Linked DNA regions of Homo sapiens. The protein of the gene in region 2 interacts with the protein of the main gene of each other region in a pairwise test. Each region holds a gene or a part of one and is shown on either strand. Other genes may lie near its edges.

Region 1 (7,029 bases), on a different chromosome or scaffold from region 2:
TGCGCACCACCACAGCCAGCTAATTTTTGTATGTTTTGTAGAGACAAGGCTTTGCCATGTTGCCCAGGCTGCTCTCGAACTCCTGGGGCTCAAGTGTTCTGCCCACCTTGGCCCTCCCAGAGTGCTGGGATTACAGTGGTAAGCCACTGTGCCTGGCTGAGCCATTAACAGTTGTTTAAAAGTGGAAAAACGCAGTCTTAAATGAATTATGGGAAAGCACTGAGTGTCCAAAGGGAGAATACTACACTGCTTATATCACATCAAATGTATTAATATTTTGTTTAGATCTTTTTATTTTTGTTTTAAACGTTGCATCTAATGTTCCCACCCCTAAACCTCTTAAATGTTTATAATCTAGAAAAATACATAGAATGCACTAAATATTTCAGGTATTTTGCTAAATTAGTAGTTTTCATCCAAGCCCTTAAAAGTTTTAATTGCTGAATGAATCAAGTTTTTTAAAGGAGAGATGTATATATTTTACCTAAAAAAAAGTGTTTGTTCATATCAGGCAGAAATGGAACTTTCCTATGTCATACCCATAAAAGTGCCGACCTGATGTCTTTAAGATTGGCAGCTTATATTGACAATCCATGTATGTCAGTTGAAGGTGTCATGGTTTAAAATTGCTTCGCCAGTAACTTGATTTCACTTTTATAGGGTGGTTCTTTTACTTATTTGGTTGCTACACTAGTACTTTAAAAATTGATGGTCAGTTGTTGAGGAGGAAATAAAATATTTGATGGCCACACCATCTTAAAAATACTTTAAAAAAATTGGAGGCTGGGCTCGATGGCGCATACTTGTAATCCCAGCGCTTTGGGGGAACAAGGCAGGAGGATGGCTTGAGGCCAGGAATTTGAGAAGAGCCTGGCACAACTTCGTGAGACCCCTGTCTCTACGATTAAAAAAAAAAAAGAAGAATATTTGAACATAAAGGTTAAGGTATTAGAGGAAAACAGATTGTAAAACTACAGGGTTGAACAAGAAAAAAGTCATAAAAAAGTGAATTTGACTATGTAAAAATTTAAAATTTCTGCAGGACAAATGATACTATAAAGGCAAAAGACAAACCGAGAAAATAATTGCAATATACATTACTAAGGGTATAAGAAAGGCTCACAGAATTGATGGGAAAAAATAAAACCCACTAGAAAAATGGTCAAAGGATGTATCCTCCCAGTTCAGAGGTAAGGAATACAAATGGCCCATCAACAGAAAGTTGCTGAGGAACTATTTACCTTTTCACCCATCAGATTAGCAACAGTTGGTAACATTGGTGAATGTGTAGCGAAGTAGACTTTCTCATAAAGTGTTTTGGGAGTGAAAATTACAACTTTTTGGGGAACAGATTTTGGCTTCTATCAGATTTAAACTAATATCCTTTGACGAGCAGTCTAGCAGATTAAGCAGGAATACATGTATCAGATTGTTGATTGTGGCGTCACTTATCATATGAAGAACTGGGAAAAGCTTGAACCCATCAGTAAGGATCTGGTCGAATGAGTGGAGATGCTTCCCATGTGTGGCTGTTGGAGAGGATGAATTAGACTTGGGTGTGTTGGCCTGGAGCATGCCTTGATGGGTTATGTGAACACTATATGTGGAGTATTGTGTAGAGTATGACTCTGTCTTCTACAAATTAAAATGCATGAGTCCATGTGCATGAGCATTAAGGAAAGTGGAAAGGATACACTAAACTCATACTGTGGTTGGGGGGTGTGGCGGAACCTGTCCCCCCTTTTTTCTGATAATACCTCTGTGGTGTTTGGAAAACACCTGGATTTATTTTATAGTTGAAAAAATTGAGGTATAAAAAACAATTTAGCCAAAATATTTTAACATCCTTTTTTAACTTTATTGGATACAGCAACCTTTAACCTGAATATGATCAACCCAAGGGTATTTTTCTCAGCATAGTATATAACTTCCAGTAGACTTAGCTCCAGAATGTAGATAACTGAGGAAAAAAAAAAGTTCTAGATGAGATTAACTATGATTAATGGACATTTTTAGTCTTGTATTCTTATTAGGGTTCTAATATTTTTAAGATTAGGGGAGGGGCCTCTTCCAGATTTTTAGGTCAGGGTCACACTTTGTCCAATGATTGCAGCCCCCAATGCTTTGAATTTCAGTTTATTCAAAATAGAATGTAAGGGCCTGGAGCAGTGGGTCACATCTGTAATCCCAGCACTTTGGGATGCTGAGGCAGGAAGATTGCTTGAGTACAGTAGTTCGTGACCAACCTGGGCAACATAGTGAGACCCCGTCTCTACAAAAAGTTAAAAAATTAGCTGGGCATGGTGGTGTATGCCTGTAGTTTCAGCTACTCGGGAATCTGACGAGGGAGGATTGCTTGAGCCCAGAAGGTTGGGGCTGCAGTGAGCTGTGATCACACCACTGCACTCCAACCTGGCTCACAGAGCGAGACTCTTGTCTCAATTTAAAAAAAAAAAAATCTAAGGTTTTGACTAATCAGTAGTTTCCTTATGTATCTATGACCTATAGATTTTTTTTTAAAGAATCCACATACAGACTTCTAAGTTAGATTCTTTTGATGATGCAAAAATTATTTCCAGAGATTTTATAAAATCTCAGGATTATCATCATAGGATTGTTGTAAGGGTAAAATGAGTTGATGTTTATGAAGTTTCTGGAAGGGTGCCCATGTATGGAGGCAGCATAGTACCTCACTAAAAGCACGGACTGCATGGCTTTGAATCCCCACTCCACTCCTTACTGGCTCTGTGATCTTGAACAGGTAATTGACCTCAGTGCCTCAGTTTTTTCATCGGTAAATAATAATAGTACCTATCTCATAAGAATTAAATGAGAAGATGTGTGGAGCTCTTAGAATAGTGCCTGACAGGCAGGCAGTATTATCATTTTTAGAAGCCATTCCCAGTTGTGGCCAGCAAAATGTAGGATGGTCTCATTGTGTTTAATTGAAATACCTCTCATAGTATTCCAGAGTGAGAAAGAAGGTGATAGGCAGTTCTCTGGGGATGGGGCTCAGTTTGGGGCACCATCTGACTGAATTGTAGCCAGAGGAGAGGCGGCCAGGCTAGTATTAATACTAAGCTGTAAGTTGCATTGTGAGGAATGCTTACAAGAACTGAAAATATATTTATTACCTGGGTAAAAGAAGACTTCCTCCCTTGTACAGTGGCAGTGGAAAGACCTGATTTAGATGGGCAAGTTAATTCAAAAGTTAAAATATGACCTGGTACAAGCGGAAGGGTTGTTTGCTCTTCATGTTGGGCTGTTACCTGTAAATGTCCCCTCCCTTGTCCTAAGACATCTGGCTCTGTGACACCACTGAATGCAGCGTGATTGTCTGGAACATCTCATGTGGTTTTTGAGTCTGTCCGGAGAACGGGCGTTGTGATTGTTAGACCCAATGTTTGGGCAAAAGTGACCTACTTCGGGATATTAGGAATTCTTGTAAGTGGATTAATACATTGAGTAATGGTTATCCTAAATACTTTTTTTGGGTGCTGGGGACAGAGTCTGGTTTTGTCCCCCAGGCTGGAGTGCAGTGGCGCTATCTCAGCTCACCGCAACCTCCGCCTCCCAGGTTCAAGCAGTTTTCCTGCTTCAGCCTCCCAAGTAGCTGGGGCTACAGGCACCCGCCACCATGCCTAGCTAATTTTTGTATTTCTGGAGAGACAGGGTTTCACCATGTTGGTCAGGCTCATCTTGAACTGCTGACCTCAGTCCTGACCTTGACCTCCCAAAGTGCTGGGATTATAGGTGTGAGCCACCACACCTGGCCATACTAAATACTTTTTAATGGCTTTCTTCTGCTTCTTGTATACTTCTAATAGAGTCTTTATGTCACTTGTAAGAAAAGTGAAAGTATTTGCAATTCCTTAATTTGTTTAGGGTCATCCTGAAGGATTAGAATACATTTTCCCATTTGTATTAGGGATATAAAGCAAAATAGTTATTTTTTGTTAACTCAGGAATTTCTTGTGTATTTTAGGTACTTCTGACGCAAAGACCCCGGGAGAAATTTCATTCCCTTAAGTTTATAAATTTTTAATTAAAGCTTTTGTTTTTAAAAGAAGAAAGTTGATACCCAGCTCATTTCTAAATGGAGGCAAAAAGATGATAGGGATGACCCTCTTGGGGGATATAAATTTATTTGTTTAGTTGAATTGGTGTTTGGCCTGGCACAATAGCTCATACCTGTAATCCCAGCACTTTGGGAGGCTGAGGCGGGTGGACCACTTGAGGCCAGGAGTTTGAGACCAACCTGGCCAACATGGTGAAACCCCGTCTCTACTAAAAATACAAAAATTAGACCAGACATGGTGGCTCACCCCTGTAATCCCAGCGCTTTGGGAGGCTGAGGCAGGCAGAACACTTGAGGTCAGGAGTTCAAGACTAGCCTGGTCAATATGGTGAGACCATGTCTCTACTAAAAATACAAAAATTATTTGGGCATGGTGGTGTGCGCCTGTGATCTCACCTACTCAGGAGGCTGGGGCAGGAGAATAGCTTGAACCCGGGAGGTGGAGGCAGTGAGCGAAGATCACATTACTGCACTCCAGCCTGGGCAACAGAGTGAGACTCAGTCTCAAAAAAAAAAAAAAAAAAAAAAAAAGTGAATTGGTTTTTAAGTGAGTACTTTTTTTTTTTTTTTTTTTGTGACAGAGTCTCACTGTGTTGCCTAGGCTGGAGTGCAGTGGCCCAATCATGGCTCACTGAAGCCTTGGCCTCCCTGGGCTCAGGTGATCCTCCCACCTCAGCCTACTGAGTAGCTTGGACTACAGGCGCCTGCCACCACACCTGGCTAATTTTTGTATTTTTTTCATAGACATTTTTTTGCCATGTTGTCCAGGCTGGTCTCGAACTCCGGGACTCAAGCAATCCTCCCACCTCAGCCTACCGAAGTGCTGGGTTTATAGGCATGAGCCACTGCGCCTGGCGTAAATGAGCACGTTTTTATACTTGAACTCTGAGGAGCAAGAGGTGGGATAGAGCTGGTGTGTTTGGTTGGTGTGTTGAACTTTGCAGGAGGTGAACGTGTATACTTTCAACTTGGATTCTTGTGTGCCAGTTCAGATATCTAATAGCTTAAACAGAATTTCAGGAAAAAGCTGGAAAATAAGGAATGGTCGTTAAATTTTATGTGGAAAAAGATAATTGGGCATAAAACATTTAAGACATACTTTTGGAGTGTAAATCTTCACATTTTTTGTTAAAAGAGTTTCGTGACTTTCTCCTGAGGCTATCTGTCTTTGGTTACCTGAAACTCCTTTATTTTCTCCATAGCTATTTATTGAATCAGACACTGTGCTGGGGCTAGGGACACCAGGTTCCAACAGATTTTCTTCCCTTGCAGAATGTTACCGAAATAGGATTTTTATAAACCTGTAGGTCTTTGAAGGCCCCTCCTCCACCCCACCCCAAATTTCTGAACGTCTATCAGGAAGTCTCAAGTATTGTTTTCCTGGTCTAGAATCAGTTTTTTTCTTCCCAGGATTCTATTTTAAAGAAAGACTTTTAAATGTTTCATGCTTTCAATAATGAAATTATCAAGAAAATACTTGTTTTCCTCAAAATATTCAGTGGCCCTGAAGATGCCTGTTAGGGCATCAATCATTGCTTTTATGTTGACTGTAACTGTTGGAAACAGATGTCCATATTAAAAAAGCTGTTAAGAAAATATGTTTTAAAAATTTGCCCAACAGGAAGGAGAAAATTAGAATCTAATAGCAAACTTGTGTCAAAGCAGGGGAGACCACATGATCTTCCTCTTTGAAAATCTGTCCTGGGTGATGACCATATGCTCTCTAAACAGGTTTTCTGTGTTTTAGGGAAAGAAGCTCAGAAAGGACCCCTGCTCTTTGATGACCTCCCTCCGGCCAGCAGTACTGACTCAGGTACAGTCTTCAGGCTCTCCCAGGTGTGTGTCAACGTCTCTACTCATCCTGGGATTGTAGTTGTCTCAATCTTTTTCCCTTTCCCCCATTTTCAACACACAGATGTTTTAGGTGTTGGACTGTCTTTAAGTTTTGAATCCATGGCATCAGGTAAGGCAGAAAAATCTGCTAGTCGCTAGCCCTGAGAAGTACTGCGAGGAAATGTGGAGCAGTTTTCTCTGGTTCATTTGAGTATTTATTTTACTACCTGAAGTACAATTTAACTTTTTAAGGCAGATTTTTATTTCCTTTGAAATAATAGGACTTTAAAATAGGTTCAAGATATTATTCATTGCAGTATGAGTTGCCACTGGATTGACGCAAAGTTTTGAGTTTATTTCAGTAACCTACATAGGTGTCCTGGTGGGATGGATTCTGAAACTTAAGTCTTACATATTTTTTGTGGGCTCACTAAGTGTTCTGCTGTGTTTCAGGATCAGGGGGACCTTTGCTTTTTGATGATCTCCCACCCGCTAGCAGTGGCGATTCAGGTAAGTGGTAGGAAAAATCCAAGGTGCTGATGGAAATAATACATAGTATTTTACTCTTATGTGAAATTTATGTATAGGTTTTAACGGGATTTTGGATGACATTAAGTCATAATACAGCATAAGGTTTACTAAAACTATAAACAGGCACATTAATTGGAAGCACAAAGATAATACTGTATCACTTTCTGGTGATATTAACTTCTTGAGGTTCAGATTGTTGGAACTGCCTTTAAGAATTAAGAGTTCACTAATTTACTCTTAACTTTGTTATTAACATTTTTTAAAAATTCAGAGTTCATTATTCCGATTTGCCTTGTTAAACAGAGTGCTTGACTCAAATGTATCGAGGCTAGTAGCATTGGCTCTACCTCCTCCTGAAAATGTTCCTTTTCATGTCCTAATTAAGTAGAAGGGAAGAATAGAGCAGATTCCTGTTGCCATTGCGGCAAAGGTATGATTCTGTCTCATGAGAACTTCTTAGGTAGAGCTCCTCTGGTTGGGGAAGGTGAGGGTTAGGAGAGGTTGGGAGATAGATGGTGTGGGGGCAGTGGGGAATGCAGGTAATCCCATTTCGTATGCAGGTATATTTTCTATATTTTAGGAAAAGT
Region 2 (7,029 bases):
GTACTTGAAGTCTCTTTATTGGGCTTTCATACTTATCCTAGTTATCTATTTTTCCACTGAATGGCTATATCATAATTTATTAAAGCAGTTTCCTATTTTGAGTGTTTAGGTTTCTTCCAATTGTTTGCTGTTATAAATAATGTAATGAATCATTTTGGTAGGGAAAAAAGTATCATATGGGCCACTTGCTTGTGTTTCTTTGATAGCTTATGAGGTGGTATCTTATTCTAGAAGCCAAGGTTACTCTTAAAAGGTGCCCTTTAGCGCTGTCATTGACTCCACCCTTGTATTAGTCTGTACTTGCATTGCTATAAAGAAATACCTGACACTGGGTAATTTGGAAGAAAAGAGGTTTGGCTTTTTACCAAGCCAAACAGTAAAAACAGTAACCATTGGCTCATGGTTCTGCATGCCGTATAGGAAGCATCTGCTTTTGGGGAGGCCTGAGGGAGCTTTTACTCATGGCAGAAGGCAAAGTGGGAGCAGGCACTTTGCATGGTGAAAGCAGGAGCAGAAGAGTGAGGGGGGGCGGTGCTATACACTTTTTTTTTTTTTTTTTTTTTTTACTGTTTCATAATTTATTTATTTTTCCATGGAAATTATTTAACATTTTATTTTCTGACAAAGCTCCTGTTTATTTTATTTTTTATTTTTTATTATACTTTAAGTTTTAGGGTACATGTGCACAACGTGCAGGTTAGTTACATATGTATACACGTGCCATGTTGGTGTGCTGCACCCATTAACTCGTCATTTAACTTTAGGTATATCTCCTAATGCTATCCCTCCCCCCTCCCCCGGCAATTGAACAATGAGAACATATGGAAACAGGAAGGGGAACATCACACACTGGGGCCTGTTATATACTTTCAAATGACCAGATTTCATCAGAACTCACTCGGTATCAGGAGGACAGCACCAAGGGGGATGGTACTAAACCATTCATGGGAAGTCACACTCATCAACCAATCACCTCCCACCAGGCCCCACCTCCAACACTGGGGATTACATTTCAGTATGAGATTTGGGTGGGGACACTAATCCAAACTATATCAGCCATATATAAAAATAATGATTTTTCTGGATTCTCCTAGGACTCCCTCCTCCAAGAGGTCTAAATCTCCTGCCTAAAAGTCAGACCACTCTAAATTTGACCTGGCAACCAATATTTCCAAGCTCGGAAGATGACTTTTATGTTGAAGTGGAGAGAAGGTCTGTGCAAAAAAGTGATCAGCAGAATATTAAAGTTCCAGGCAACTTGACTTCGGTGCTACTTAACAACTTACATCCCAGGGAGCAGTACGTGGTCCGAGCTAGAGTCAACACCAAGGCCCAGGGGGAATGGAGTGAAGATCTCACTGCTTGGACCCTTAGTGACAGTAAGTAATTCATGCTGCTCCAGCCTCATCTGAGCAATAAGGGGCTACCGCCATGCAGACTTAGCTAACATCACTGCAGGACTATTGGAAATTATGAAAGAAAGTTAGTTGTGAGAGAAGGCTAATTAGTGCCCCCCACCTAATCATTTTAATAACTTGCAATATATAACATATATTTGGATTTGCAATAATTCAGGCAGGTCTGTGCTAAAATTTACCTTCCCTTGGTGTGCAGTTGTTTATTTAGTAAATTAGTAACAAGAAGTTTTTCTAGGGCTTGTTGAACCATTTATGGGGTAGTTTTGAAGAATTATCATATATCTACATGTACACAGATGTCAGTTAATTCCAGATGGGTCTTACCTAACCATAAAAACCAAATAACTTTGCTTGAAACCCCTTGAAAACAGGTAATTTTAAAAGTTAAAAGATTTATCTAGGAGTAATAAAATCACTTTTTTTTTCCAAAGTATTTTGCATTTCAGGCTTCTCAATTTCAGATTGGTCATTTAAAATTAATGGGAATTTCTTGGGTTTCTTTGTAGTATTGAAAGTCTATTCATTACTAAACTAAGCAGAGAGTTTTATTTTGATTCACTGAAATTAGAACTGTGTGCATTTGGAACCCTTGGAAAGGTAAACTATTTCTTGGCCACACACAACTACCACTGAAGTCAGGATCATGTGGTCTATGGCCTTACCACCCTGAACACACTGGATCTCATTGATCCTGGAAGCTAAGCAGGGTCAGGCCTGGATGGGAGATTATGTGGTCCCTTGCCACCTCCCAGAGTCTGAGGCTGTCTTTGCAGCTGGTTCTCCACTTCCTCAGGAACAGGTGTGGAAGCTGGCTCAGTGTTTCTTTGGCCACTCTTTTATTGCATCAGTGACTTATGAAAGTCTGAATTGTTTTGTCAGTGTTTAGGAATTCTTCATATATAATGTTTAATTCTGTGAAATTTCCAAGGTGCAGAATCATGCTAACAGTAACACAACGAACAATCACATTCCTCCCATCCAGAATTAACAACTGTTAACATTTTGTCATATTTGCTTTCAGCATTTGTTGTTGACTTATGTAATAACCCACTACAGGTGTATCAGTATCTCCTGCAACTGTTATCCCTATCTATTTCTATTCCCCTCTCCCAAGAGACAACCAAAATTATGAGTTTGTTAAGTATATTTTAATTTAATGTTGTATGTATATATTTTTTGAGACAAGGTCTTGCTCTGTTGCCCAGGCTGGTGAGCAGTGGTGCCATTATGGCTTCTGCAGCCTTGGCTTCCTGGGCCCAAGCAATCCTCCCACCTCAGCCTCCTGAGTAGCTGGGACCACAGGCACACGCCACCACACCTGACTTTTTTTAAAAATTTTTTTGTAGAGATGGGATCTCCCTATGTTGCCCAGGCTGGTCTGGAACTCCTGGGCTCAAGCAATCCTCCCGCCTTCGCCTCCCAAAGTGCTGGAATTACAGGCATGAGCCACTGTGCCAAGCCCAATGTTCTATAATTTTAATATCTCTGAAAGTATACACATGCATACATATCATTCTTCATTTTTTGAATGGACATTATGAATTTTATCGATCCATGTTTATTTAGCTTTGATGCATGTAATTTTAACTTCTGTATAATATTCTATCTTATGAATGTATCTTGTCATTCATCCTCTCCCTTTTAGAGGGAGATGTAGGTTTTTTCATTTTTTACTATCATGAACAAAATGCAATGCCCATTCTTATGCATGTCTCCATGTGCATAGACAGGTGTGAGAGTTTTTCTAGGAACAAGTCCGGTGGTGGAACTCATGGGCTATTTCCCTCTAAAGTGGTTAGTCAGTGTGTACTATGTTCAGGAGTGTATGACAGTGCCATTTTCCTTATACCCATCTCTATGTCTATATCCTTTCCCTATATCACTCGATAGTGTCACACCTTTTTACTTTGCGTATCTCAAAAGCAAAATATGGTGCCTCATTGTTAATTTCAATTTTGATTTCCTTGATAGCTAGCAAAGGTGAGCATCTTTTTATGTTAATTGTCCTCTTTTTTGATATACTTATTGATATACTGGATGTCCTCTTTTTTGATATACTTATTGATATCCTTTGCTCATTTGGAATAGGTTGTCTTTCTTACTGATTTGTAAAAATTATTTGTGTAATCTAAATACTTTGTTATGTGTATTGCAAATATGTTCTCCTAATCCCTTTATTGTAACCTTGTTTGTGGTGGCTTTTAACCCACAGACACTTGACATTTTGATGCAGCTGGACCTGTCAGTATTTGCCTGTGTGATTTATACTTTTTGCATTTTGGAATTATTCCCTATCCCAAGGTCATAAACATATTCTCTGTGTTTTTCCTAGTAGTTCTAGTGTTGTTTTGTGTATTTAGGTCTTTAAGATATAAAAATGTTATTTTGGGGTGCAGTATATTTTAATATTTTTATTTTAATCTTATTTATTCACATATGGCATGTCAGTGGTCCCAATGCCACGTATTGAGTAGTCCCCATGGTGAGTTGTGATGATTTCTGTATCATATGCCAGGTTCTCATATTCATTTTGCATCTATTTCTGGATGTTCTGTTCCCTTCCATTGATCTGTTTGTTCCTGTACCATTTCCAGCATATTAACTATAAACTTGTGAAATGTCAGTAACTATGGGATGAATCACTATTTCCTATTTCAAAATTATCTGAGGTGCTCACTCACCTAAACTACATAAGTTTCATCCTCATTAGAATGATACACTCTCAAAATCACACTATCATTATCATATTTATAGGATTAAACAAAAACTAGTTAATAGTCACTGGGAGTCGACTTGCCTTGGATGATTGTATGAAGTTTGATGGAGGGTCAATGCTGGTGGTGGTAGTAGGGATGTGAGATTGGCAGGGTAGGAGTTGATCCCTATAGGGTCAGGAAATCCGAGGAAGGAGGATGTGAATGAGAACATCTCATTTTTACCTGAAAATATTTGTTAATATGCTGTGTTGTCATTGATCATGTATGTTCATAAGTAAAATTAATACTTCCAGTTATAAAGTTTGTGTTGGTTTCCAGCCTAGCAATTACATCTGGTCCAGGGGTAAGAAGTGGAGTGAATTAGATTTGGCGTATCACCCCAATCATATGTTAAAAATAATATATGTGTGTTATGTTTTCCTGTTGGAAAACATTTACATGGGGAGTATTTGACCCTTACAATGACTTTTTGAGGAAAGTAGAGTAAGAATGATTATCACAGTTAACAGATGAGGAACCTGAGGCACAGAGGAGGGTAAGTGACTTGCCCAAAATTATGGAACTAGTACGGCATGGGGATTAGGATTCTAATCCACATTTTAGTTCTATTTTTCCCCCCACCATGCTACAAATGTCTTGCACTTGTCTCTTTGGATGGGCGACCCACTGCTTCAAAGCAACTATGCTTCTAGAGGTTCTTTAAGTAGTGATATCCCGTTTCTAAATTGTTTAAGGTCTGATTAGTGTTTCCTAAAGCATTTTAGAATCTATTGTAGAGTCACCCAGAGAACCTGCTAAAATGTAGATTGCTGGGTCCAGACCCGCTGAATTTAAATCAAAGGTTTATTGAGCTATCCCTAAGAATGACTCCTTTCAGGCATAAAATGGTAAGTTGGTAGATGCAAATTTATGATTTTTAGTTGGCACAAAAATTATATTCATTATTTTTCTAACAAGCTTCTAAAAGACACTGCTGCTTTTTGTGACAGGCTTAGAAGACCACTGGTTTATGAAGTTGAATTTTTTGAGCCACAACTATACAAATATTAACTATGTGATCATAGTAATCTGAAAATGTTGGTATTTCTATTACTCCTTCAATCTCATGTGGGAAGAAAGGCTATTGTATATTTTTATAAAAATATACAAAAGACTTGGTACTGGATGTAAAGAAAGTTAAGACATACTGTTGATTAATTGTGATTTTTGGATACTGTACCATCTGCTAGACATAGAACATAACAATCAGATTTGGAAGGTTCTAAATCCAATACCTAATTCTCATAAATTGCCACAGTCCCCTAAAGAGTAACAAGGGGGAGTCAACATAATGAAAAGAAGAAATTTAAAATAGAAAGGATGTACCTTGAGATACTTCTCAAAGGTTCTAAATTGTTTATAAGCAGTAACTTTCATGTGGAAAAACAATGGTGTATGGAATGAAACAGCCTATGTCTACTATTCGCCTACTGGGACAAGTACAAACCCCTTAAACTTTTGAAGTCTCAGTTTTCTCATCTCTAAAATGTGGATCATAAAAAATCTCAGTACTGTGTGGTTATACAAGTCAAGAGAGTGTCTGCATGTGGAAGCACATTGTAAATAGCCTCATAAATGTAAGGTACAGTTACTATTAAGGACAAGAGCTCGAATCCATTCTTTTCCTGGATCAAATAGGCTTAGCCTTTATTGGATCACGAACTTCCCTTCTAGCCTGTGCCCTTTAGAGTTTGAGTGAGAATGTAGTGATGCTGCGGTGCCTGTCATCTTCACATGTGGAAAACCTCAAGGCATCTCTTTCTCATCCTGCCCGTGTCCCTGAATGGAATGTGATTCCACTTTTCCCCAAATCCCTATAATACTTTGTCTACTAAAAGTTATTAGCACATTTTCTCATGTATACACTGACCTGCCTGCTGCTCCATAAATTGAGGGCAAGGACTGACCACATGACACTAAGACTATGGACTACAGAGCCAGACTGCCAGGAGTTGAATCTTGTTTCTTCTACTTAACAGTAGTGTCACCATGGCTAAGTCACTTAATCTCTCCAGACCTCAGCACTTACAGAAAGATTGCTATGAAGAGGAAGTGAGTTAATATATACAAGAGACTAGATCAATGCCTGCCATATTGTAAGCACTATATAAATGCCAGCCCTCAGAAGCTTTCCATTCTTCCCAGCATCAAGAATAGTAAGTACAGGTTTGTGGAATAACAGAATTTCTAAGGCCTTCATTTAGTGTCAAGATGACAGATAGATGATATGTGTTGCCATTTCTCTGTCTGTGCCACTCTTTCAAGTCTGCGTGGAGTCCAGTAGCCACTACCAATTGATTGGGGTACCATATGAGAAAACATTTGTTTGCCTTATATGAGCTGACATGAACTCTATCTCAAAAGCATAATGATCTAGGCCATGGTAGTATATCTTAAGTGAATCTTTTTTCTTTTTAATTTCTAGTTCTTCCTCCTCAACCAGAAAACATCAAGATTTCCAACATTACACACTCCTCAGCTGTGATTTCTTGGACAATATTGGATGGCTATTCTATTTCTTCTATTACTATCCGTTACAAGGTTCAAGGCAAGAATGAAGACCAGCACGTTGATGTGAAGATAAAGAATGCCACCATCACTCAGTATCAGCTCAAGGGCCTAGAGCCTGAAACAGCATACCAGGTGGACATTTTTGCAGAGAACAACATAGGGTCAAGCAACCCAGCCTTTTCTCATGAACTGGTGACCCTCCCAGAATCTCAAGGTTGGTTGAATGGACAAGTATTTACATAGGATTACCGTGCAGCCCTATAGGCAGCTGGTTTATCAGGACAGGCCTGTGAGATGAAAGCCTATGAAAAGTCGGTGGTTGAATGGACAGGCATTTACAGAGA
Region 3 (7,029 bases), on a different chromosome or scaffold from region 2:
ATTTTGTAGTTTTAGTAGAGATGGGGTTTCCCCATGTTGGCCAGGCTGGTCTCGAACTCCTGACCTCAGGTGTTCCACTCACCTCGGCCTCCCTAAGTGCTGGGATTACAGGTGTGAGCCACTGAGCCAGGCCAATCTTCTTAAACATATGTATATACTATTCTTTCAAATACAAAAATTAATTTTAAAAAAGAATGTTTTTACACATTTGAAAACAAGTAAGAGCATTATTGGATTGTTTGTAACACAAAGGATAAATGATTGAGGGGATGGATACTCTATTTTTCCATGATGTGATTATTACACATTGCATGCCTGTATCGAAATACCTAACCTACTATGTATCCACAAAAAAAAGAAAAGCTTAAAAAATAGTTTAAAAAAAATGAAAAAAAACAATGTTTTCTACAACATGGTAAAAGGCAAAGAAACTTACAAAGTTAGAAGACAAACATTTTACATGAACAGGCTGAACACAGATGACACTGTTTCTCTTTTGAATGTAGTAAAAATTAAAAGTAAATTAAATATTAAAATAAAATTTAAACCTTGGTAACTATAACAATATATTTTGTAATAAATATTCTTGATGTTGAAACATGAGCTTTATTCCTACATAATTGGATGTAATTAGCCAGAGCACATTCTGCAGCCTATGATTTTGCCTCTTGGAATAAACTGAGCAACGTGGTCTAATTAGGTTAATTCATAGACTTATCATCTTTGTCAGTGCATCTGCCAGGCATCAACAAAATATGAAACAACATGGAAAAGATAAACATAGAATAGAAAAAGCTGTTATAGTTAGTATACTTAGAATCAAAACTGTCTTATGCTCTGTGTGATCAAAATGAACAACAAAAAAAAATCAGACATTTCTAACAGCAATTATTTTACTTTAGATTTGATAATGTGTCTTTAACCCTTTTTTCTTGGTAATGCCAGCCTTTAAGAAAAAAAAGTTTTTTTAATTTTTTAGGGATGGGGTCTCACTCTGTGGGCCAGGCTGGAGTGCAAAGGCACACTGTTCACTGTAGCCTCAAACTCCTGGGCTCAAGCAATCCTCCCATCTCAGCCTCCTGAGTAGCTGGGACCACAGCCATGCACCACCATGACTGGCTAATTTTTTTTTAATTTTTTATTTTTTAGAGATTGGGTCTCACTTTGTTGCTCAGGCTGATCTCATACTTCTGGCCTCAAGCAATCCAAATGCCTTGTTCTCCCAAAGTGCTGTGATTATAGGTATAAGCCACCACACCCAGCCAAGAAAATACTTCTAAATAGAGATATAAACTTGAATAAAGCATCAAAGTAGTCAGATTATGGCAATTTTAAGTATTCACAAAGTAAATTGTACACCTAAATTACATGTATAAAAGATTTTATATCTTACTTCTGATTGCCTTAAAGAGGAAGAAAAGTTACCTGAAGTTGATGGACAAATCCAGCATTAGGATTAATACAAAATCTTCTTTCTTGAACATAAGCAAAAGCATCTCTGAAAACAGAAAAAGAGTGTTAATGTGATAGCATTATTTAATGAATTAATCATAATCATACAACTTAGCAATAGAGAGGGGTAATGAGTTGTAATGGAAAAAGCATGATGAGATTAAATATCACAATTCCTTTTCTCACCAGCTATATGCTTACGGCAGCTTGCTCAACTTCTCTAAGCTCTATTTTGTCCATTGGTAAAATGAAGAGTCTAATAACACCTACCTTGGGGAACTACTATGAATAGGAGGTAAGTGTAAAGTGGCCAGGTGCAGTGGCTCTTGCCTGTAACCCCAATCCTTTGAGAGGCCAACACAGGAGGACTGCTTGAAGCCAGGACTTTGAGACCAGCCTGGGCAATGTAGTAAGACCCCATCTCTACAAAAAACTTAAAAATTAGCCAGGCACAGTGATGTGGTATAGTCCCAGCTTCTTGAGAGGCTGAGGTGGGAGGATTACTTGAGTCCTCAAGTCTGAGACTACAGTGAGCTATGATTGTGCCACTACACTCCAGCCTGAGAAACAAAGGAAGACCCTGTCTCTAAAATAAATATATAAAATGTAAGCATTTTGTGCATATAGTACAAGTTCAAGCTCAAAATACTATCACTGGTTAAAGAGGTTTATTTACTTTTGTTATGAGGCTTAAAGTGCCTATAATAGTACTGAGCTCATAGCAGAGACCCAATAAATACAAGTTATTTCCAACATTAATGGTCTGACAAAATTCGAAATAATAAAAACAATATATAAAACATAAAGTCCATCAATACATGTTTAATCTTTTTTCAATTAAATATTTGTATTCTGGCTGGGTGCAGTGGCTCACCCCTGTAATACCAGCACCTTGGGAGGCCGAGGCAGGTGGATCACAAGGTCAAGAAATCGAGACCATCCTGGCCAACATGGTGAAACCCCATCTCTAATAAAAATACAAAAATTAGCCAGGCGTGGTGGTGTGCACCTGTAGTCTCAGCTACTAGGGAGGCTGAGGCAGGAGAATTGCTTGAATCTGGGAGGCGGGGGTTGCAGTGAGCTGAGATCGCACCACTGCACTCCAGCCTGCCAATAGAGCAAGACGCCGTCTCAAAAATAAATAAATAAATATTTGTATTCAAATAATATTCCTTTAAGAATAGATATTTTTAAGCAAAGTTATCCATTCTAATTTAGATATAAAAGGGGACTGAAATAGAAAGATGTGTCAATGATTACTATAAGATTTCTAATTTGTAGAACAAGAAAAGCTGAGAAAGGAAATACTGTACACTGGCCAGGCTTTTGCTTTGTCTTGGGGCAAGAAGCTCATTACCACCCCCTATCTTTTAAAAAATCTATACAGAATGCTTGGAAAAGATGATTTTTGATAAGAAAGACTACTCTGAATTGTAAATAGATGCTGCAAACAATTCCTAGGTAATTTTTCATCCAACTATTGTTAAAGGAGAACATGATAAATTAGCCCTTTAAATAAGGCAAGCACTAACATTTGTGGTCACGAGTTTTTATACTCATACCAACCAATTCCCTTGTGGTAGGTAAGTAGTTTTCCATAGGATTTCCATATTAGCCTATGCATATCTATACAAGTAGATAAATTAGGTTAAGACTAATCATGGAATAAGGGCCTGCCTAATCAAACATGACTACATGAAAAATAATCAGGGGAATAAGAACTTCAAACTTCCAAACTATTCCCATTAAGTTTCATTTTAATGAGAATTTAAACTGTGGCTAGGTTTTAGGGTATTTTCTTACCTGTACTTCATTCCAAATGTTTCCATAATGTATGCAATAACAAAGGCTGCACTGAAGAGGGGAAAATAATTTTAAAAACAACCAGAAAATACAGCCCATTAATTAAATGTTATAGAAAGAAAGATTATTTCTAACTTCATACCTTCTGGAGATCCCTGCATTTCCATGCACAAGAACTTTTCCTGAAAAACATGAATTCATTATTCTAATAGAAAAACACCTGAGTCAGTAGCTGAACTACATTGAAACCACAGTAAAGTAACTCCTTATATACTATAATCACTTGGATATCTTCAAATCTTTACAATTTGTTATTATCAACTGTGTAGAGAATATAGCAGACTCTTATTAAAGAAACTGAAAGCTCACAGAGAATTTGAAAACAGTCTACAGGGATACTCCAGAAAGCCTATCCAAATGAAACAAGTAATTGGGAAAATACAAATTTGGGAGTAAGCTACTACATATAATTGTAACTTCCATATCCTGCATTTAAGACAAATACCAACTAAAAAATTAACAAATAATCAAAATATAAACATTAGTTAAGGAAAGGAAATGTTATTTACCTCCCATTTGTAAGCTCCCATCAATAAATTCCTTAGTCTGGAGGCAAAAGACATGTGGATTAATGTAAGCATAAAATAAATGCATATAATGAAACAAAATGAAACCTATTGAAAACAATTTCCTAATTTATATGTATAAAAATTATTTTGATTCACCAATTTCCAAAATGCTATAAATAGAACTATTACAAGTCCAAAAAAATTAAAGAAGCCAAAATTTAATTTAAGTCCAATACATTCACAATATGATTCCTCAAATTTCTGGAGATCATAAAAAATTTTCTACAAATAATTCTTTTAAAAACACAATCACATAATTTTCAGTCATAGCAAAGTAAAAGTAGCAAGCTTTACAAGCACAATTAAAGGGGCTGGGCACGGTGGCTCACGCCTGTAATGCCAGCACTTTGGGAGGCTGAGGCAGGCAGATCACCTGAGGTCGAGAATTTGAGACCAGCCTGATCAACATGGAGAAACCCCGTCTCTACTAAAAATACAAAATTAGCTGGGCATGGCGGCTCATGCCTGTAATCCCAGCCACTTGGGAGGCTGAGGCAGAAAAATCACTTGAACCCGGGAAGCAGAGGTTGTGGTGAGCCAAGATTGCGCCATTGCACTCCAGCCTGGGCAACAAGAGTAAAACTCTTGTCTCAAAAAAAAAAAAAAAAAAAAAAAAAAAAGCACAACTAAGAAGTCAAATCATAAATAAATTTTAAATGATATTTAAAAAATACTGGTACCTACCATAGGGAAAAAACGTATTATATTTTCAACTGGATTATCTGCAATATCCAGGACTAAATATCTGAAAATAGAGTATTTTGTGATAAGCACACTTTAAGTAAAACACTTAAGGTACTTTAAAAAAATAACTCATTATTTCTTGTTAACCATGGCAAGAATGCAAAACAACTTTCAAAGTATCATATTCCCAAGAACTGTGTGGTAGATTTTACATTGCTTGAAGGCATTAAAACCTGAAACACCATGTTAACATCTCTGATATTTAAGTATTTAAAAAATCCATCAGGCTGGGCACAATGGCTCATGCCTATAATCCCAGCAAAAAGAAACTCTTTTGGGAGGCCAAGGTGGGAGGATCACTTGAGCCCAGGGATTCGAGACCAGCCTGAGCAACAGAGGGAGACTCCATCTCTACAGAATATTAAAAAATTAGCTGGGTGTCGTGGTGTGCACTTATAGTCCCAGCTACTAAGGGGGCTGAGGTAGAACTGTGTGAGCCTGGAAGTCAAGGATATAGTAAGCTGTGATTGGGCCACTGCACTCCAGCCTGGGTAACAGAGCAAGATTCTTATCTCAAAAATAAATACATATTTTATTTGCATATAATGAACCATCTGGTTAAAATAGAAAAATCACAAGCAGGAAGATACATTCCTCTAGATTAGAGTGGACCTAGAAATAAAGACAAAAGTACCTGTAATCGTTATGTTATTCTTTTATTTCTACCAATTTCTCTAAGACCAGAAGATTGTTCTCTAAGTGGTCCTGTGACTCCTGCTCATGAACCTACAGAGGACATTTCAGAGGAAGTCCAAAGTCTAAGAGAACGAACAAATAAAAACGGAAGGTATGGTCTATGGAACCAGGAGTCAAACATTCACTGTTTGAACTCATCTTTAGTAAAGGGGAAAAAAAAAAAAAAAAAAAACTAGCTGAGAGAGCACCTGTACTGAATTTTACACTTTACAAAATACTTAAAAGGCATTTTAAATATGTTAGCTTATTTTTGTAAAAAACTTCCATTTCTAAGCGTTTCTAAGACCACTGTTTATTAACACAACTATAGGCAATTAGCTAAGTTATTAAATTAGTTTTAAGAACAATTTTGCACTAAAAAATACAGTTTTTCAATGATCATTTAGGTGGTAACAACTTCAAAGAATTCAGGACTTTAATACAGAGAAGCTGAGGCTGAGCATGGTGGCTCATGCTTGTAATCCCAGCACTTGGGGAAGCCGAGGCAGGTGGATTGCCTGAGGTCAGGAGTTCAAGACCATCCTGGCCAACATGGTGAAACCCCATCTCTACTAAAAATATAAAAATTAGCCAGGCATGGTGGTGCACACCTGTAATCCCAGCTACTCAGGAGGCTGAGGCAGGAGAATCACTTAAACCCGGGAGGCAGAGGTTGCAGTGGGCCAAAATTGTGCCACTGCACTCCAGCCTGGGTGAAACAGCAAGACTCTGTTTCAAAAACAAAAAAAAAAAAACAAAAAAACAAACAAAAAAAAACACAGAAGCTGAACCTCAGGATCTGAGGAAAATCCAATATTTAACCTACAAGGATTTCGACAATGACTGTATCCTGAAGTGACTGGGTATTCCAGTTACATAAAATAATGCTTCAGGGGAAAAATGTTAACTCAGAATGAAATTAAATATTTTAACGCATAACATTTTCAGTGTCAAGCACTGCTAGTAGAACTATCAATCTCTAAGAAGCTAGTATTGTAAAAGTTTAAGGAGAAATGGTTCTTCCATTAGGATAAAGAACCTGCACAAACAACATTATAATTTAAAACAAAAAGTCTGTACACATTAGAAATGAATAGTATGATTTTTTGGCTTTTTTGTTTTTTCTTAAGATTAGTTTCACCTTATATAGTTTGATATTTTAAAATACAACATTCTCATTTTCTTTAATAATTCTATGCATATATACGTAAATACACATACACAACAGAGAACGATTTAAAAGGAAATATTCCAAATGTTAACAAAAGTGTTTTCTCTGAATTGTGGAACTGTAGATGATTTAAATATTTTTCTTGGTGTCATTCTATACCTTCCGAAGTACTTATAAAGAATAAGTGTTTCATGGCCAGGTGTGGTGGCTCATGCCTGTAACCCCAGCACTTTGGGAGGCTGAGGTGGGTAGATCGCTTAAGCTCAGGAGTTCAAGAACAGCCTGGGCAACACAGCAAAACCCCATCTCTAGAAAAAAAAAAAAAAAATTAGCCCGATCCGGTGGTGCACCTGTAGTCCCAGCTACTTGGAAGGCTGAGGCAGGAAGATTGCTTGAGCCTGGGAGGTCAAGGCTACAATGAACAGAAATCATGCCAATGCAATCCAGGCTGGGCAGCAGAGAAAGATCCTATCTTTGAAAAAAAAAAAAGTATTTCTTTCATAATTATAAAAAATTCAGGCCGGGCGCAGTGGCTCACGCCTGTAATCCCAGCAC
Region 4 (7,029 bases), on a different chromosome or scaffold from region 2:
GACCTAAAACCGTAAAAACCCTAGAAGAAAACCTAGGCAATACCATTCAGGATATGTTATATTTTTATTTTAGTTCAGTTCAAAATATGTTCTAATTTGTCTTGTGACTTTCTCTTTGGCCCATGGATATTTAGAAATGTGTTTTTTTAATTTCCAAATTTTGGAAATATTCTTCTTTTCTTTCTGTTACTGATTCCTAGTTTAATTCCTTCATGGTCAAAGAGTATACCTTGTATAATTTCAGTTTTCAACATGTGTTATTTTATGGCCCAGTATATGATCTGTCTAGATGAATACCCCATAAGAACGTGAAAAGATTGTGTATTCTGGTGTTTTGGGTTGTGTGTTCTATAAACACCTATTAAATCCAGTTGGTTGATGGTGGTGTTCTTTTACAACCTTGCCTTTGCTTCTTTTCTTTCTCCTCAATCTACTTACTATTGAGAGGGAACAGTTAAAATCTTCAATGATAATTGTGAATTTTCCCATTTCTCCTTTCATTTTTGTCAGCTTTGCTCCATGAATTTTAAGCTCATTTTTGATGCATATATATTTAGGAATATTATGTATTCTTATGTACATTGCATCATATGTCCATCATTATGTAATGTCCCTCTTTATCCTTGGGAATTTCTTTGTGCTGAATTGATATTAATATAGTCACTCCAGGTTTCTTTTGATTAGGTTTTCATGATATGTTGCTTTTCACTCTTTCACTTTAAATGTGTCCATATCATTATATTTGAAGTGAGTTTCTTGCGCTTCTACACCTGCATCTGAGTCCAGGGTCAGGTATTGATAGGAGAGAGAGGGAAAAGAGCTATGATTGTTGGCTGCTTTAGAATTACGGCTTCACTAATAGATAACTTGGCTTCTCAGTCTTCACTTTTCCAAAATTTTTACTTGAGTATATTCATAAAGCTGAAGTGAAGGAGGAAATAGGTAGCATTTGAGGATAGAAAATACAAAACCAATTCCAGACATTAGGTCAGTGGTCCTCAAACATCAGAGTTTGAACATAAGAATTCTATTATAAATCCAGATTCCTAGGCTACATCTATAGAGATTATGCTTTGGTAGTTCTAGTCTGGGGTCTAAGAAACTGTATCATCATGTCCCGGGTAGCTCTGATACAGAGAACCTAAGGACAGCACTATGAAATTTTTTTTCTTACCTAATGATTGTGGTAGGACACCTAATATTACACTGCTATCTTAGAACTCATTACTCAGGAACAAGGCAGGACTAAGTTCATTCACACAGACAAGTGGATAAGGTTGGAAAATTTTCATTGTGTTTCAATTGCGCTTCAACTTAGATTTTGTCCCTTTCTCGGTAGGCCAATTTTAGCATGCATTTATTAACTGGACTTTTCTATTTAGATAAAGTGGCTCTGAAAAGACTTGGTGTGATTGATAATATATAAAAAGAAAGATTGAAGATATTTGTGTAATTTACTCAGTTTGTCAGTTATTTCTCCTCTTTTAAGATATCTACTTTCCCCAATCTTCTAAGCTGCTTTTTTCTTTTTATTTACTATTTATAGAGAATCCAGAGTAGAGGAATTGCTAGTTTTTACAGGCTTTGCTTTCCATCAAGCCTTGTGTGACCAACATATACGTCTTACATCTTCAGCAACTCTGTTTCACCCGTATCCCTTCAACTTTCATGTGGGGTTATAAAGATGGGTTATTTTCTTAGCCCAAGTGCTTTATTCCACGATATAATAGTATGAGAATCATCTTCTGTTACCAGTAGCTTTATCTTTTTGGACCACTTGAATTATATTTTATGTGGATCCTGAAATAGTAATGGAAACTAATCATCATGTCTTCAGTTCCGAGCATGCTAAATTGACCATAACTTTTTTAAAACAATCAAGCCACCCATAGTTTGCCAAAGATGATGATTGGACAATGATGACCCTTAAATAATTGTACATTTTATTTCTCCATATTAAATGAGTTCCTCGGATTTGGAAATGAAACTCTCATTAAGAACATATGTAGTATAATGGAATTCAGAACAGGATATCTCAATGTTGTTGTTCTTACCACTGTTTTATCAATGGAAAATGGTGCCAAAATGTTTTAGATGTATATGAACTTTCTGACCACAAGGTGTGTATTTATTATTTTACTAAAAATAATTTACTAAATAATATTGTAGTGTCCTAGAAGAGTTTCTACATTTCTGAAAGGAGAGTAATTTTCTTCTTTCCCTCTGAAAAACTATCTGATATCACTACAATGAAGTGATTCCTTTGGGGTTAAGAAATAAAATAATATACTACTTTCATCCTGGTTTACTTTTCTAATACCACTGATGTAGAGGTGATTCTGTGCTTTGGGAAAGGTATATTGTATGCATAAATGAACGTGGGTCTCTCACCTAAGAGAAAATAGAGAAATTTAAATGCCCAGTAGCATGAGTACTAGATCTGCCATGATAATTCTATTGAATTTGGGCATGTAAATAGCTGAAATTTGCAAGAAAAACAAAATAAAGTACAGACGCTTGCATGATTTGGGAAGTAAAAGATAAAAATAGTAGGAGATTGGAGAAGAATTCTTGTAAAAAGAGGTAAGTAATTTTCTAAGGACAGCACTTGTTACCACAAGCATTTCCAGTGAAAATCTGGGGTACCATTGCTAGGGACTATGTTATAAAACAGATCTCATGTTTGCTTTTCTAACTGGTATTTGACCTAGTAATATTCTTTTTGATTCATATGTATTATCTGTTTCCTCCTGTGGCCAGTAGCAAACAGGAGAAGCCATTATTCAATGCAATGAATATTTATCTAACAGAAGAAATAAAGATGAATGTATTTGTTACTAAATAAATTCAATTGCTCTAACAAAGATACTTAAAATAATAGCAGGTAAAACAATAGAATATTGTTTTTCTCTCTAAAAATCAGAGTGGGAACTGTGAGGTTGGTATGGTAGTTTCACTTTCATCAGGGATCAGAATATTTTGTCTTAGTGCTCTACCATCTTTGACACATGGTTTCTACCTCATGCTCCTACCAGACTCTCTGCATTTCAGCCAGCACAAAAGAGGAAATGTAGAAAGGAAGGCCATATCACATCTCTGCTAACATCTGTTTACTCACATTCCAATAGCTATAACTTGATCAAATGGCAATGCTTAGTTGCAGGGAAGACTGAGAGAAATGTAGTCTCTATCTAGATGGCCATATTACTTACACAAGTAAGGAGACGATGGATATTGTTTGGACTACTGAAAGTTGCTACCACAATAAGTACACTCAGATTTCTTACCTCAGAGAGCTTAAATACTCTGTAAGCGTGAAGAAAACTGTTCATTGTAATACAAGCAATAAGTATGAAATAAGAATTGTAGGAAATGCTTATATTTAAGGAAAGCTTAAATATGATAAAAATATTTATAATTTCAGCAGCAGATAGGACATCCAGGAATAGAAGCCCAAGTAGGTATTGAAACTATGGGTGTAGATAAAGGAGGAAATTTCTTAGTAAAAGTGGCATCAGAATATCTGAAAAATAGAACTTTTTCAAAGTACGCCCACTTTTATCCACCTAAAGTCTTTGAGAGGCCTTCATACCACCAGGTGTATACTATTTGTTGAGGATCATGAAGCAGACAAAGAAATATGGAGACTAACCTAAATCCTTCACAAGTCTTAAAGCCTCTCAAGAAAGGGTAATCCTCTTCATCAGATATATCTACCTCTCTTACTGAATAGGGTCTTTGATATTGTTTCTGCTTCTTCCCTCTTTCAGGGTGCTTTTCAGGAAACAATGATCATTTTTTGGCAATTAATCAGAAGAAGAGTGGGAAGCCGGTATTCATTTATAAGCATTCACAAGACATTGAGAAGAGCCTGGATATAGCCCCACAAAAAATCTACAGACATAGCTACCATTCCTCTTCCGAAGCTCAAGTAAGCAAACGCCACCAGATTGTCAATTCAGCATTTCCTAGACCCGCATATGACCCGTCTCTCAATCTGCTGGCCATGGATGGTCAAGATCTTGAAGTGGAAAATCTCCCAATCCCAGCAGCAAATGTAATTGTGGTGGTAAGTAGTATGTTAAACTGATGCTGAGGCTGATGTTGATTCTTTCCTGTCATTGATGCTTGAAAAAAGAAAAACACTGATTGTGAATAGTTATCAATGAATCCCAACGGGTATGTACCACAGCACTTATTCTGTGGTACTTCTAATTTCTTACTTGACTGTTGTCTGTTTTCTTCCTCTTACGAAATCAGAAAACTTGTCTGTATCCTCCGCTCATAGCAGAATGCATGGTACATGGTAGATGCTTAATAAATATTTGAATAAAAGATTACTTTAGGAAGGCCTTACAATTATAGTTGATTATATCTTGTACTGAGCCTCCTACCTTCTGTGAGAATCTGTTTTAAGCAGATAGGCCTTAGTCTCAGCCTGTGTAAATAAATAATACTTATTGAAGATCCTCTGGTCACTTGACTCAAATTACAATAAATAAGACAACTGAAAGGGGAGGTGTGGTAGAGGGAGAGTAGTTTTCTGTCACTGGAGCAAATAAAATGAGTTGGGAGTAATTGATAGATAACATTTTTGATATTACTGAATAATAACCATTCTTTATTAATAAAAGTGATACAATGATCCCATTGCTTATGTTCTTAAAGTTCCCTTGCTTGTATAACCCAGGTCAGAGGTTTCCAAATTGTGGAGGTTATCATAGTTTAAATACATACTGAGGTTGACACCCTATTTGAACTACAGTCACTCTCTGGTTTAACATCATTATAGAAGGATCCACATTGAAACTACAAATCAGTAGTTAAATGGTTGTTATTGCATCTCTGCTCCAAAATATAATCAAATGAGTTGATTTGTGTGGCCAAGATAATTCAATGAAACCATGTTTGCATTTTGGCAACTCCTCTATGCACCAAATGTAATTAAATCTAACAAGCTTCTTTTTTTTCTTTATTTTTTTAACCTACTACATATAGTATACTTTACTTAATATTGAGAATCAAAGTTCCATTCGTCAATGTTTTCAGCTAGCATACACTCAGTATTTATTATGATCTAGTTTCCCCTTGGGATATCTGGAAACAGAGACAAATGAAATACAGTCTCTTGTTTTGCTTGGAAAATGTCCAGAGGGAAATATCAATAATTCAATAAAAATCATAAGCTAAGAACACAAGATGAACTCTTGTTAAGAGAAAATATGTGGGTCACTTGGCATCCTGAAATACTTGAACAAGTTTTCTGCATTTACATGAGTAGCAGATGTTCTGAAGGTGAAAGTCATGTACTCTGTCTATTCAGTGAAGATAAATGATGTTAATGATGTCTCTGTATCTGGAGATGCTCCTGTTAATGCTAGGGCTCATGGGAGATATTTCCTTAGTGACCATCATATACCCATAGTCATCAACTCTTAAAGTCACTGTGAATTACAGTTCAAGAGGCTTGTTCTATCTTGTAATGTCATGTACTGTCTAGTTAATTTAATATCATGGACAATAAAAGGCACCAATGAGGAATTCTGGCAGGTCATTTCACTTTCAGCTTATTTGTGGTTTGGAGATTGATGAAGAAGCTGTGCTTTTCCTTTGGGGTGATGATTACATAGAGGCAATAGGCAATTTTGCTGCATTAGCTTTCCCTAGCCTCTGACCATGCTGTGGCTTTGGTAGCTGGCAACACCAATTGCCAGTCCTAATGTTTCCTGCAATCCACTTAGATTACTTATGTGCATGATGATTTAGCAGCAAAACTGGGGAGGCAGGGTTATTTTTTAAATAAATCAATAATGTTTAGCTTCCTCAAAAAGCAAAGGGGTGATGCAATTAAATGTCAGCTGATTTGAAGACCCATTCCATACAGAAAATGGATGTATGGATGGGGCATACAGGAAGCAAGGGATATATTCTGGGGCAGCATAATGACTTTAATGGAATAATTGATGTGTGTTTGTGCTTATCATATGTACATGAGTATAAAACATATACATCAATGCAGACCTTCTTGTTTGAGGGATATTGCAGTGGTACTAAGAATTATTTTGAGACTTAATTTATACTCAAATAGACCATGTTCTGACTATCAGTGTCTTGAACTGGAGAAATTATAGGCATTTTTTTTCCAGCCAGGGTAAAAAGCTACACTCAACCTCTAAACTTTATATGTAACTTCTAAGACTTCCTAGCTCAGAAGGAAGGATCAAGCATTTTTCCTCCAATACTTTTTTCTTTCTTGTTTCAACTATCATTGGCAATGAGTTTTAGAATGCTACCTTTAAAAAGGGCATGAAAGTTGTGTCTCTCCTCCCTTCCTGATTCCCAATTGCCACCGCAAAGCATTTCATAAGAGCATTTATCCACAAATGAATTTTTTCCCTCTTTCTTCTTTTTATTAGTAATCAGGAAAATTTATAGTTTATTTGTTACAAGGAGAGTACAACACAATTAGAATGTTTATCCCAAATAATGCTAACTATGTTCCGGAACTCAATTAAGAAGCTGTTATTAGGATTTCTGTGCAAGTACAATGTAGAGAAGATATTGAATGCCTCAAGGTCAGTACTATGGTAAGAGGAAAAAAATACCGCTTTAGATGAAAGTATGCTGTAAAATCCATAGCTCTTGTCACTGGATCCTCAGGATATTTGTCAAGACACAAGGCCACAACACCAGGAAGGAGGGAACCCAGAGGTGCAAGTGAAAATGGTGGAATGGTAGCAACTACAGGCCATTTCAGTTCAGCATAGGCTGCTGAGTGAAGAATGTTCTAGCCTGGACAGAAATCTGAGCAAACTGAGGATTAGTAAGGCTTGGGAATATAAGGGGTGGTTTTTGACATCAGTGAAACGGCATGGAAATGGGAAGATTATGATTTACTCTGTGAGATGGACTCATGGGTAAGAAAAATAAAGGAAAGGAGAAGATGGAGGAGAAGAAACAGGAAGAAGAGCAGCAGGAGAAGGAAAGGAGGCAAGGAAAGAAGGGAAAAAGAAGCGGGGGGAGAAGGGA

Evidence for each region.
Region 1: the proteins of TEK (region 2) and ILKAP interact in a two-hybrid assay, tested with the Homo sapiens proteins (one study listed by BioGRID and IntAct).
Region 3: the proteins of TEK (region 2) and STYX interact in a two-hybrid assay, tested with the Homo sapiens proteins (one study listed by BioGRID and IntAct).
Region 4: the proteins of TEK (region 2) and PTPRR interact in a two-hybrid assay, tested with the Homo sapiens proteins (one study listed by BioGRID and IntAct).

The regions. Positions count from the first base shown.
Region 1 is NC_000002.12:238,193,667-238,200,695, reverse strand, and holds part of ILKAP (integrin-linked kinase-associated serine/threonine phosphatase 2C), read left to right. Parts: intron 1-5,825; coding exon 5,826-5,891; exon of another isoform or gene 5,892-5,914; intron 5,915-6,364; coding exon 6,365-6,421; intron 6,422-7,029. UniProt on the Homo sapiens protein: Protein phosphatase that may play a role in regulation of cell cycle progression via dephosphorylation of its substrates whose appropriate phosphorylation states might be crucial for cell proliferation.
Region 2 is NC_000009.12:27,196,221-27,203,249, forward strand, and holds part of TEK (angiopoietin-1 receptor isoform 1 precursor), read left to right. Parts: intron 1-1,094; coding exon 1,095-1,379; intron 1,380-6,599; coding exon 6,600-6,899; intron 6,900-7,029. UniProt on the Homo sapiens protein: Tyrosine-protein kinase that acts as a cell-surface receptor for ANGPT1, ANGPT2 and ANGPT4 and regulates angiogenesis, endothelial cell survival, proliferation, migration, adhesion and cell spreading, reorganization of the actin cytoskeleton, but also maintenance of vascular quiescence.
Region 3 is NC_000014.9:52,754,151-52,761,179, reverse strand, and holds part of STYX (serine/threonine/tyrosine-interacting protein), read right to left. Parts: intron 4,630-7,029; coding exon 4,569-4,629; intron 3,862-4,568; coding exon 3,825-3,861; intron 3,438-3,824; coding exon 3,398-3,437; intron 3,307-3,397; coding exon 3,256-3,306; intron 1,499-3,255; coding exon 1,426-1,498; intron 1-1,425. UniProt on the Homo sapiens protein: Catalytically inactive phosphatase. Acts as a nuclear anchor for MAPK1/MAPK3 (ERK1/ERK2). Modulates cell-fate decisions and cell migration by spatiotemporal regulation of MAPK1/MAPK3 (ERK1/ERK2).
Region 4 is NC_000012.12:70,889,719-70,896,747, reverse strand, and holds part of PTPRR (receptor-type tyrosine-protein phosphatase R isoform 1 precursor), read left to right. Parts: intron 1-3,770; coding exon 3,771-4,069; intron 4,070-7,029. UniProt on the Homo sapiens protein: Sequesters mitogen-activated protein kinases (MAPKs) such as MAPK1, MAPK3 and MAPK14 in the cytoplasm in an inactive form.